2 separate regions of the Homo sapiens genome follow, and region 2 is linked to region 1. The links come from fine-mapping of genetic effects on gene expression. Tissue or cell type: whole blood. Region 1 holds a variant in brackets; the other region holds the start of a gene. All regions are shown on one strand. Distances are between the middles of the regions.

Region 1 (5,617 bases):
GCAACAGCCACGTGCAGAAGCCCAGCCCCGGCGGTAATCCCGGGCGGAAAGCAAGCGGGAAGAAACATGCAGGATGAAGGTGCCAGGGAAGAGGTCTTGTCCCTGATTTCCCAGTGGCCAGTGTGGGGTGGAGGCCAAGGACCGGGCCTGCGGGAAGTCCAGTGGGTCCTCTGAGAGGGCATCACTGGGACTATTCATAGCCCAGGATCCTCACTGGAATCTGGCAGGCAGGGACAGGCACCAGCAGGAATGTTGCCTGTTTGTGGCACAAACGCAAGCTAAGTTGTTTACGCTGTTCTTCCTTCCACTGCCTCACTTAGCCTGAGACCAAATGCCAACCATCCTGGAGCCTGAATAGATGTCCAAGACCCAGAATATGGTCTGTGTGCTGCATATAATAAAATGAGAACTGGATTTGGAGTGAAGGATATAACCATGGGATTTGGCAAGACACTGAATAGGGTTGCTGTGTGTGGTTGTTAAGGTCATGCACTGAACAAATACACCTGGGTGATGAAGTGAATGGGGCTAAAATCTACCCTGTGCTCTGCTCACTAAGCCATTATTGCCCAGAGGGGCATAGTTTTCGAATATGCACAAAGGTGCCATATGACCCACCCATTTTCTCCTGCAGAGAGATGGTAAGGACATAGTAATATAACCTATGTTAAAGAACCTAATGGTTATTTGCAATGAATTACCATTATTTATACAAAGTCTTGTTCCACAAAGGTTTAAAGGCAGCTTATGAAATTATATATGGTTAAATAGAAAATATGATTAGATACAATATTATACATTGATTGAATGAGGGAAGGCAAAAATGAGGCATATGCACCAGTACTTCCCTTCGTGTGCCCATGGCAGACATCACTAATGGATAAATCCATCATGCACCTTGTTCACGTTCTGAAAGTCAGTTTTCACCCTGGCACAAAGGAAATGAGGAAATCGGTAAAGGGCTGTATCTTCATGCTGCACAGTAGGTCAATAAATGAAAATTATATTCTGGGGCCTGTGGCAAGGGGAAGGGGAGGTGACCTGGATCAGGAAGTCCCACACTGTCATGTGTCATAGTTTTAGCCTTGAGCTTCATCATGGGCAAAACAAAGATGTAAACACTCAGGCAAGCATGCACACACACAGACACAATCAGTGTCCAAAATATAAAATTATACCAATTTCTCAGACTTCATGCAAATTGCCTACACTGAATTCTCGGCGAATTTTTCCTGGGGTTCCTCATAATGGGGTCATGTGATGAATCAGAAAACACCCTCAACAGCAGCCCTAGAAGAAGCACATTGGCAGATTTTCATTGGTGACTCCTTATAGTGAAAACCCTGGGTAGAAAACTTAATCAGAGCCCAGTGAGAGCTCTGTAAACCCTTTCCCCCATGACACCCAGCTTGTGGGAAGGGAGCTGGAAGAAATAGAAGCCCAAAGCTCTACTAAGTCTCTGGTATTGGGGAGTAGGCCTTCAAATGGACCCCAAGCCCTTTTCTATGAATGAGGAAACCAAGACCCTGGGAGGTTAGGGAGGGGCTCCAGGTCCCCAGCTCCAAGCCCAGGAGTATTTCCCCTCTACTTCACCACGCCCCCTGGAGGGTGCTCACCCCTGAGCAGCACTTCCTGGTCCAGCTCAACCCACCAGCAGGGTTGACCCACCAGCCTCCAAACCCCACGGCCAGACCCCCAGGCAACACCAACTGAGGGCCCCCTCACTGGAGAGCAAGGCTGTGGGCTACATTGTCCCCAAGGAACCCCTCTGGGGGAGCACAATCTACAGGTGGTCCTGGGGCCCCCCAGGGGAGGTGGCATTTGAGTAGACCTTCAAGGACAGGCCCCTCCTGCCCCACAGCTTGGCAGAACAGACAGATCAGGCGGACCACAGTTCAAATCCCAGCCCTGCTGCTCCCGGGCTGTGTCCTTGGGAAAGTTATCTCACCACCTCTAAGCCTTAGCTTCCTCGTCTGTAAAGTCAGAACCGCTCCTAGGGCAGGCAAGAGGGCTGCGTGAGACCAAAAACTTCACTAACTGAGCAGTTTATTACTCACACTATTATCACGACCGACGATAACTCACTCACGGCGTAGACAGAGCACTGGCCAGGAGTTGGACAGATCTGAGTGTGGATCCTGGCTCTGATACAACTGGCTGAGTACCTTTCTAAGCCTCAGTTCCCCCATCTGTTAAATGGGAGGCAGGACTATTCCAAAGGTCAGTGGCCTGTGAGGGTGCAGTTCCAGTTTTGGCCCCTCAGATGCTGGAAGCACAAGGGAACCGGGACTTGGGCTAGAGGGAGGCAGGGCCCGAGAGGCCCTGAGGCCTGGAGCTCACCAGCAGCTCCCCTCTGGGGCCTGGGCCGGGGGAATGTGTAGGAGGGAGGTCCAGGGAGGGGGGCCCTGGAGCCAAGAGGAACAGCCCTGGCGGCGGGCAGCGGTGCGGTGACCCAGGAGGGAGGGAGAGCTTGGCTCCGAGCTCATCACTCAGCGAGCTGTCTCCCCCCGGGCCGGGAACCCCGGCGGCCTGTCCTCCCCACTTCCTGCGCGCTGGGTCAATATTGTGATTTCCACTGTGCAGCCCGCCTGGGACGGCCTGGCCCTGCGCGCCGCCCAGGGTCACGGGGCTGCGGGGAGACAGGGGTATGGAGAGGTCACCCGCTGCCTGGAAGATGACTCAGGACCTGTAGGCTGCAAGGCGGCGCGGCCAGGAGCCAGGAGCCCCAGTGCAGCCCCACCTCCAAATGCACAGAAATGGCGCCGGAACAAGGCCTGTGAACTCTCCCATCCAAACCGAGGGATCAACCAAGGCCCGGAGAGGGCGGGGACTTGCCCAAGGTCACACCGTGAGTCTGTAGCTGAAGGAGGCCCTGAATCCCATCTCCTGACCTCAGATCCTCACCAAACCTCCATATTCTACCTTCCCTGCCCAAGTACCTACCTTCCTCTTCATCAGCATCCGGAACGGACATCTTCCTACACCTCCGCGGGAGCACAAGGAGAGAGGACAGGCTGACCCTGACCAAGGAGGGCTGGTGTGGAGGCTTCTCCAGGAGTGAGGGGTGGTCAGGAGGACACAGTTCAGGACACCCACACACTGGGAGTTATGAGGATGGAGGATGCGAGGCACCAGCCCTGACGATCCGGAACCTGTGGCTTCATTTTTCCCAGTGAGTGCCTCTTGTCAAGGCTGAGTGCAGACTTAGCCTCCTCCCTGGAGCACCCACCGCACCCCTGCTCTCCTCCAGACCGCCTCCTCCATGCGGTGCTCTTCTTACACCACACACCTGCCTCCCCTAGTGAATCAGGAGCTCCTGGGGGAAGGGGCCCAGGCGATCTCACTTCCAGATCCCAGGCCCAGCCCAGGGTGAGGCCATCC[T/C]GGGCCCTGTTAGCACTGCTGAGTGAGGGAAGGGAGGAGTCCTGTCTTCCCACATCACTGTCAACGCCACAGGGGCAGAAACTCCTGCCCTCCCAGTGTCACCTCTCCTGGAGACTCTTTTTATTCTTCACTTGGTTACCTCCTGCTCTTCCTTTAGGTCTCTGCTTAACTGTCACCTCCTCCTGGAAACCCTTCCAGACCACTCTGCCAAAACTACATTAGCTGGCCCTGCTCTGAGTCCATTATACTTCCCTAAAAGTGCTCTTACCCCAGGGGAATATAATGGCTTCTTAAATGTTCTTCCCCTCTAGGCTGAACTAGGGCTGAAGTCCCTATCTCTGAGTGAGATGAGACTCACTATTGTGTTTCTAGCTCGGGGTCTGGTGCAGAGTCAGTGCTAGATGGATGGATGGATGAATGGATGGATGGATGGATGGATAGATGGGCCTGGTGCAGAATCAGTGCTGGATGGATGGATGGATGGATGGATGCATGCATGCATGCATGGATGAATGGATGGATGGATAGATGGGTGGGTGGATGGATGGATGGATGGATGGATGGATGGATGGATAGATATATGGATGGATGGATGGATAGATGGGTGAGTGGGTGGATGGCTGGCTGGCTGGCTGGATGGATGGATGGATGGATGGATGGTTGGATGGATGGATTCCTCCCAGAGCCAGGCCCATAGTAGGGATTCAGGAGATGCTGGCAGATGGAGATGATGGTTGTGATGATAGTGGTATCTGGGGTGGATATCTCTTGCTCTTTTCTGCCCAGCATCCCTCTTACCCCAACCTTAATTTACTATCAGCCACCTGGTCCCCTGTGGGAAACTGTTCTTCCTTCCTTACATAAGTCTGTCAATTACTGAACCCCAATGCCTCATCCACATGACCCAGACTTGGTCAATGATTGTCCCCCACTTCCTTGGCTGCAGTGATTGCCCCGCAGGCACATGGCCCAAACAAGGTCAGTCAGTTCTTCCTTGGAACTGACATATGGATCTTAGAAGAAAACAGCTCTCTGGTTTTAGACTGGGGTTCCCAAGCTGGGCTGATGGTAGCCAAGTTCTCCACCTCACAGAAGGGAGAGAATGAGGCCAGCCCCACAGGGAAGCAGAGACAGCAAGGGTGAATGACAGACAGAGATAATCCTGTTGGCCCTGAGCTGTGATTCCAGCCCCCTAGCCCTACTCCTCAGGGCAATTCCCCAGGCCAGCAAGTCCCCTTTTTTGCTCAAGATGATGTGATGTGGCTTCTCTCAGCTGCAATGGGAAGGATTCTGAATAACAGTAAACCAAAGAGAAAACAGTGAGAGGAGCAGGGTGAGTCCAAGTGGAGACACAGATGTTGAGCAGCAATTGACCAGCAGACTCAAGGAGATGAAGGAATCTCCTGCTAAGGGCATGGCCAGAGACTCTCCAGCCCCACTGTGGGCAGAGCCAAAGGACAAAGGCTGTGGGGCAGAAGGAAGGACCTAGGGTGGGGTTGGAGCACCTTTGCTGCAAATGACTGAAACCTCACTGAAACTGGCAGGAAGGGGAGTTTATCAGTTCACATATCTAAAATGTCCATGGTTTTTAGCTTCAGGCATGGCTGGATCCAAGTACTCAACTGCAGTTGTCAGGAGCTGTCTCTCTCCAGGCCTCCAACCTGTTTTCCTCTGTGTTGGATCCACTCTCAGGTAGGCTTTCTCCAAATGATGGCAACTTTAGGCTTCCATCCTAACAGCAAACCCAACTGAAAGGACACCTCCTTCTCCGTTGTTGCAGCGAAATCCCAGAACTTAATCTGATTTGCCTTGATTTGATCACTTACTCACCCCCAAACAAACCCTGAGACAAGACGAGAGGAATGTGGTGCTCTCATTGGCCAGGCTTGGGCCACAGGTGCACTCAAGGTAAACCCCACCCAACTCACAACTTGAGAGTGGGGAGGGGGCCTCTCTAAGGGTGCTGCCATCAGAAGCAGGAGCATGGGCTGGGCAGGCAGGATTAAAGTTGGCTACAATCCGTGGGAAGAGGTCTTTGGCTGGAAGTTGCTCCCCACAGGAATGAAGGCCCGAGGGAGAGGAAAGGAGCTCTTTGGGGAAAAGATAACATTCCCTTTGGCTGGGATGGTCTTCGGGGGAGGGCGGAAGTGCCCCTGAAGGCAAAAGGATGGATGAGAGGAGCTCTCGGTTACTCCCAGCTCTGGAAGTCTCTAGTTTGCAGCTGTGACGCCAATGG
Region 2 (5,000 bases), 260 kb after region 1:
TGCCACCAGGCCCAGCTAATTTTTTTTTGTATTTTTAGTAGAAATGAGGTTTCACCATGTTAGCCAGGATGGTCTCGATCTCCTGACCTCATGATCCACCGCCCTTGCCTCGGCCTCCCAAAGTGCTGGGATTACAGGTGTGAGCCACCGTGCCCGGCCCATTGTTTTCTTTAATACTCTCTTCCCTCAAAGAACTAATCCCTTCCAGACATATAATACATAGCAGGAGAGCTGACATTTAAAATCCTTCCCACCTCAGAGAATCTCTCAAATCTGTTTCCTGAGCAACAATTGACAGAAGCCAACAATCACTAACGCTGACTAGCTGCCGTGCACCCAGCACCTAGTCATCCCTTCTCTAAAGGTTCCCTGACCCATTTCTTAGGAGACTTTAATTGATTCTAGACCCAGCACCTTGGATATTCTTGGGAGTACACCAATTCTTCTCACATTATCTTGGTTTTTGCTCAGTTAATAAGGTGTGCTCATCCCCCAAAGTAAGCTGTTACTAACCTAGGGTGGTGAATAGGGAAAAGCAGAATCACTTAGGGTGAGTTGGACTAAAATATTTCGTCCAAGAAAGGTTGGGTGAAACACTGTGGGAAAGCAAAATCTTGGGAACAACCTAAGTGACCATCAACAGGGAAATGACTGAAGTACCGTCAACCACTCAGTGGTGCCGCCACGTAAAAAATGAAGCAGGCTTATGAGTACTGGTAAGAAAGCTGTCCATATCACAACATGACTAAGGTCCCGATCGATGTGTAGTATGACCCCCGATCTGAGGAAATTAAAAATACATAAATACAGATACAAATAAATAAAACCTGATATATCCAAATAATAGATAGAAAGTTATCAAAGAAATTAATTGTATTTACTTCTGAAGGGCAGAAACAGTAGAAGGGGGAAACACTTTTCATTTTACATCTTTCTGCATTGTTTTCTAACTACACACATGTATTACTTTTATAACAACTCAAGAGGAAGAAAACTTCTCAGGCTTTCCCCTCCTGCCCAAAAACCTTTCTGAGTGAAAACCCCTAACCCACTTAGGAAAACACCCTTTTATTACTTCTTCTAGCTCCCAGCACCCAACGTCTTTACAACCCAGGTTTCTAGGAACAGACTGTCAGTGGGCCTTTTTCTTTCCTTTTTTTTTTTTTTGAGACAAGTCTCACTCTGTCGCTCAGGCTGGAGTGCAGTAGTGTGATCTCGGTTCACTGCAACCTTTCCTCCTTCTGGGTTCAAGCAATTCTCTGCCTCAGCCTCCCGAGTAACTGGGATTACAGGTGCCCACCACCATACCTGGCTAATTTTTATGTTTTTAGTAGAGATGGGGTTTCACCATGTTGACCAGGCTGGTCTCGAACTCCTGACTTCGGGTGATCCACCCGCTTCGGCCTCCCAAAGTGCTGGGATTACAGATGTGAGCCACCACGCCCAGCAGTCAGTGGGCCAATTCTTAAGGCTGGCTCTCAAAGATGAACCAGCACCACAATTTACCCGGCTTATAAATCCTGTCAGCTTCAGAAGACGACTTACCAAACACAAATTTATCCTCACCAGTTAATAACTCCTTTTCTTTGCTCAAAAACCCAGTGAGAAAAAATAACTCCAGGCCAGGCACAGTGGCTCATGCCTATACTTCTAGCACTTTGGAAGGCCGAGGCGGGTGGATCACCTGAGATCAGGAGTTCAAGACCAGGCTGGCCAACATGGTGAAACCGTCTCTATTAAAAATGCAAAACATTAGCCAGGCGTGGTGATGTGCGACTGTAATCCCAGTTACTCGAGTGGCTGAGGCAGGAGAATCGCTTGAACCCATGTGGCAGAGAAGGTTGCAGTGAGGCGACAACGCGGCACTGCAACTCCGGCCTGGGCGACAGAGCGAGACTCCGTCTCAAAAAAAAAAAAAAGAAAAAATAACTCCAGTGCACTGCGCCCTTACTTCCTATCTAACATTGTGCCGAACGTTATACACAGATCCTCCTCCGTATGATCCTTAGTTCAGGATCATAAACTCTTGATAAATTACTGCCCCAGGAACCTCCAGTGACATCAACCGCTGCTACCATTTGTGGAATTCTGCCGGCCAGACACCCCACACTGCATTCCCTCACAACTGATCCTCCCGATAGCCCATGGGGTAGGCACTGTTATTTCCATTCACAGATAAGCAAAGTGAGGCTCGGAGGGCGGGGACTTGCCCAAAGCCACAAGGATGAAAGGTAGTGCGATGACTCAACCGATAAAAATAATCCCGGTTGTGGTGGGGGGGAGCTGAGCCCGACTCCTCCCACTATGCTGCCGCGGCTCCGAAGGCCTAGCCCGAGTGCGGAAATGGGCTTCTAGGGTCCCAGGACGAGGTCCACCTCCAGAGCTGCAGTGAGGTCCAAGTCAGCCCGAGGAGCCCGCAGGTCCCACATTTCAGTCATTTCCCTACCCCAAAGGCAGGGACTCCCCGCTCCTGGGGCAGGCAGCCACTGTGGCCGCGAGCAAGCGTACTCGGGTTAGGAAGGAGAAGGAAGGGGACAGGGGGAACGTTCACCTACGCAGCTGCCACCTCGGAGGACGGGGGAGCGGGGGACGAGGAAAGATCAGGATAAGACCCTAACTCCCACAAATGACTCCAGGAAAGGGAGACCACCACTCCCCGAGCTTTGGAGCGCCGCGCGGGAACCGGAAGTCATGCCCCGCCCGGAAGTTAAGAGGAGGGGCATAGGTTGGAAGGGGTGGGCCGGGTCTCTCTAGCCTCCGCGGTACTACGCAGCTTCATGGTTTTAACTCTTGGTGGTCTTTTGACCGTCCTCAGTCCTTACCGTGCGGAGTTTTGGATACATTCTTAGCAGCTTTTTCGCTCCGGAGAAGTTCTTTATCTTTCTGAGCCGCAGTTTGCCCAACTGCAAAATGGAAAGAGATGAAGCAGGAATTAAGATACTCTAGGAGCTCGCCCACAGCTGATTCAGGGCCCCATTCTGAGGTTACACCCTTAAGCCTTTGCACCACTCAAAGGAAGGAAACCAAGAGAGAGGGGTGGCTGGCTGCTGTTTGGAGACAGTGGTCCTTGTATTGGCGCCCCGCGGAATCACTCCAGATGAGTCAGTGGATACAGTCTATAGGTCCCGCCTCATTGTACGCAAACAGCAGTGGGCATATGGCCGTGGGGGGTTGATACAGCCTGTCCGGGGTGGGACTCTGTGTGTATGGGAGGCTAAATCTCAGCAGGACTTTTCCAGTTGCTACCAGACTACGCACTGTCGCCTGATGGTTAAGAACTGAAGCTTTAGCCGTGCGCGGTGGCTCACGCCTGTAATCCCAGCACTTTAGGAGGCAGAGGCGTGTGGATCACCTGAGGTCACGAGTTCGAGACCAGCTTGACCAACAAGGTGAAACTCAGTCTTTACTAAAAATACAAAAATTAGCCGGGCGTGCTGGCAGGCGCCTATAGTCCCAGCTGCTCGGGAGACTGAGACAGGAGAATTGCTTGAACCCGGGAGGCGGAGGTTGCAGTGAGCCGAGATTGCGCCATTGCACTCCAGCCCGGACGAGGGAGCAAGACTCCATCTCAAAGATGAAGCTTTGAAGTCATACTGATCTGGTTTGCGTCTGATCACACAGGTTCAATGACACAGCCGGCTAGAGGAAGCAGAGATGCTAACCACTGCAGCCCCGATCTTAACCCTGAAGGGGAGGGATTGAGCTGTTAGAGAGAGGTACTCAGTTGACTTCTCCCTCTCTCTTTCCAGCTGGCATATCCGAATGGGCTGAGCTACCGGATTAAGAGGGACACCCCAAAGCCCCCATTGCTGGGTTATTGCTCCAGAGCCAATGTTCTTGGGGAAAGGAAGATATGCCCTTTGTCAACATTGCCACTGCTGGTCTGTAAACTCCTAGACGGCCAGCTGGTGGTTCACAAACCAGGACTCCTTGCTCTGGCCCTACCCCTACCTACCAGAATGACCGTGAACCCTTCCCCACTCACTCCTACAACCAGGTTTCCATCTCCTCTCTCAGCTTAGGTTTCCCTAACTGTAAAATAAAAGGGTTGGACTAGGTTAAGGACTTCCTGCTATTTCTCTCTCCCACACTCTAAGGTTCCTTAGGAATGCTTCAGAAAACAGCAGGGGTTGGGGCAAGGATGCCGCTTGAGTCCCAGAGCAACTCCAATTTCATAGGCACATAAATTTATGTGAAAGTATATACGTTTCGGCTTGTGTAAGATTATTTTATCATCCCAGGTAAAATTCAGCCTTTGTGCTTCATCTTTCCCCACCCTCCTGCTCACTCAGTTTGCTCCAAGAACACTGACCTTCTGGCTATTTTGCAAATCTGACAATCTGACAAGCTCATCTTCACTTCTTTTTTTTTTTTTTTTTTTTTTTTGAGACGGAGTTTCGCTCTTGTTGTCTAAGCTGGAGTGCAATGGTGTGATCTCGACTCACTGCAACCTCTGCCTCCCGGATTCAAGCGATTCTCCTGCCTCAGCCTCCCGAGTAACTGGGATTACAGGCACGAGCCACCACACCCGGCTAATTTTTTGTACTTTTAGTAGAGACGGGGTTTCGCCATATTGGCCAGGCTGGTCTCGAACTCCTGACCTCAGGTGATCCGCCCACCTCAGCCTCCCAAAGTGCTGGGATTACAGGTGTGAGCCACCACGCCCAGCCTTTTTTTGAGGCAGAGTCTCATTCTGTCACCCAGGCTGGAATGCAGTGGCATGATCTCAGCTCACTGCAACTTCCACCTCCTGGGTTGAAGTGATTCTCTTGCCTTAGCCTCCCAAGTAGTTCAGATTACAGACTTGCACCACCCTGTCCAGCTAATTTTTGTATTTTTAGTAGAGACAGGGTTTTGCCATGTTCCCCAGGCTGGTCTCGAACTCCTGACCTCAAGCGATCCACCCACCTCGGCTTCCCAAAGTGCTGGGATTACAGGCGTGAGCCATCGCACCCGGCCTCATCTTCACTTCTTTTGCTGATCTCTGCTTGCAGTGCTCT

Evidence for each region. PIP is the estimated chance that this variant, and not a neighbour inherited with it, causes the effect.
Region 2: it holds the start of LINC00339, and the variant in region 1 is fine-mapped to the expression of LINC00339 in whole blood (INTERVAL, PIP 0.94).

The regions. Positions count from the first base shown.
Region 1 is chr1:22,282,739-22,288,355 of GRCh38, reverse strand. No RefSeq gene overlaps it. Among named protein-coding and RNA genes, the nearest start is that of MIR4418, 19 kb to the right of the region's middle. RefSeq lists an enhancer at 1,211-1,710. The variant T/C (reference allele first, on the strand shown) is at 3,382.
Region 2 is chr1:22,023,195-22,028,194 of GRCh38, reverse strand. It overlaps LINC00339 (long intergenic non-protein coding RNA 339), which reads right to left and starts at 3,004. Exons shown (of 2, transcript NR_023918.2): 1 at 2,823-3,004. It overlaps LINC01635 (long intergenic non-protein coding RNA 1635), which reads left to right and starts at 2,147. Exons shown (of 3, transcript NR_110692.1): 1 at 2,147-2,231; 2 at 3,229-3,389; 3 at 3,750-4,201. RefSeq lists enhancers at 2,025-2,319, 2,397-2,506, 2,118-2,719.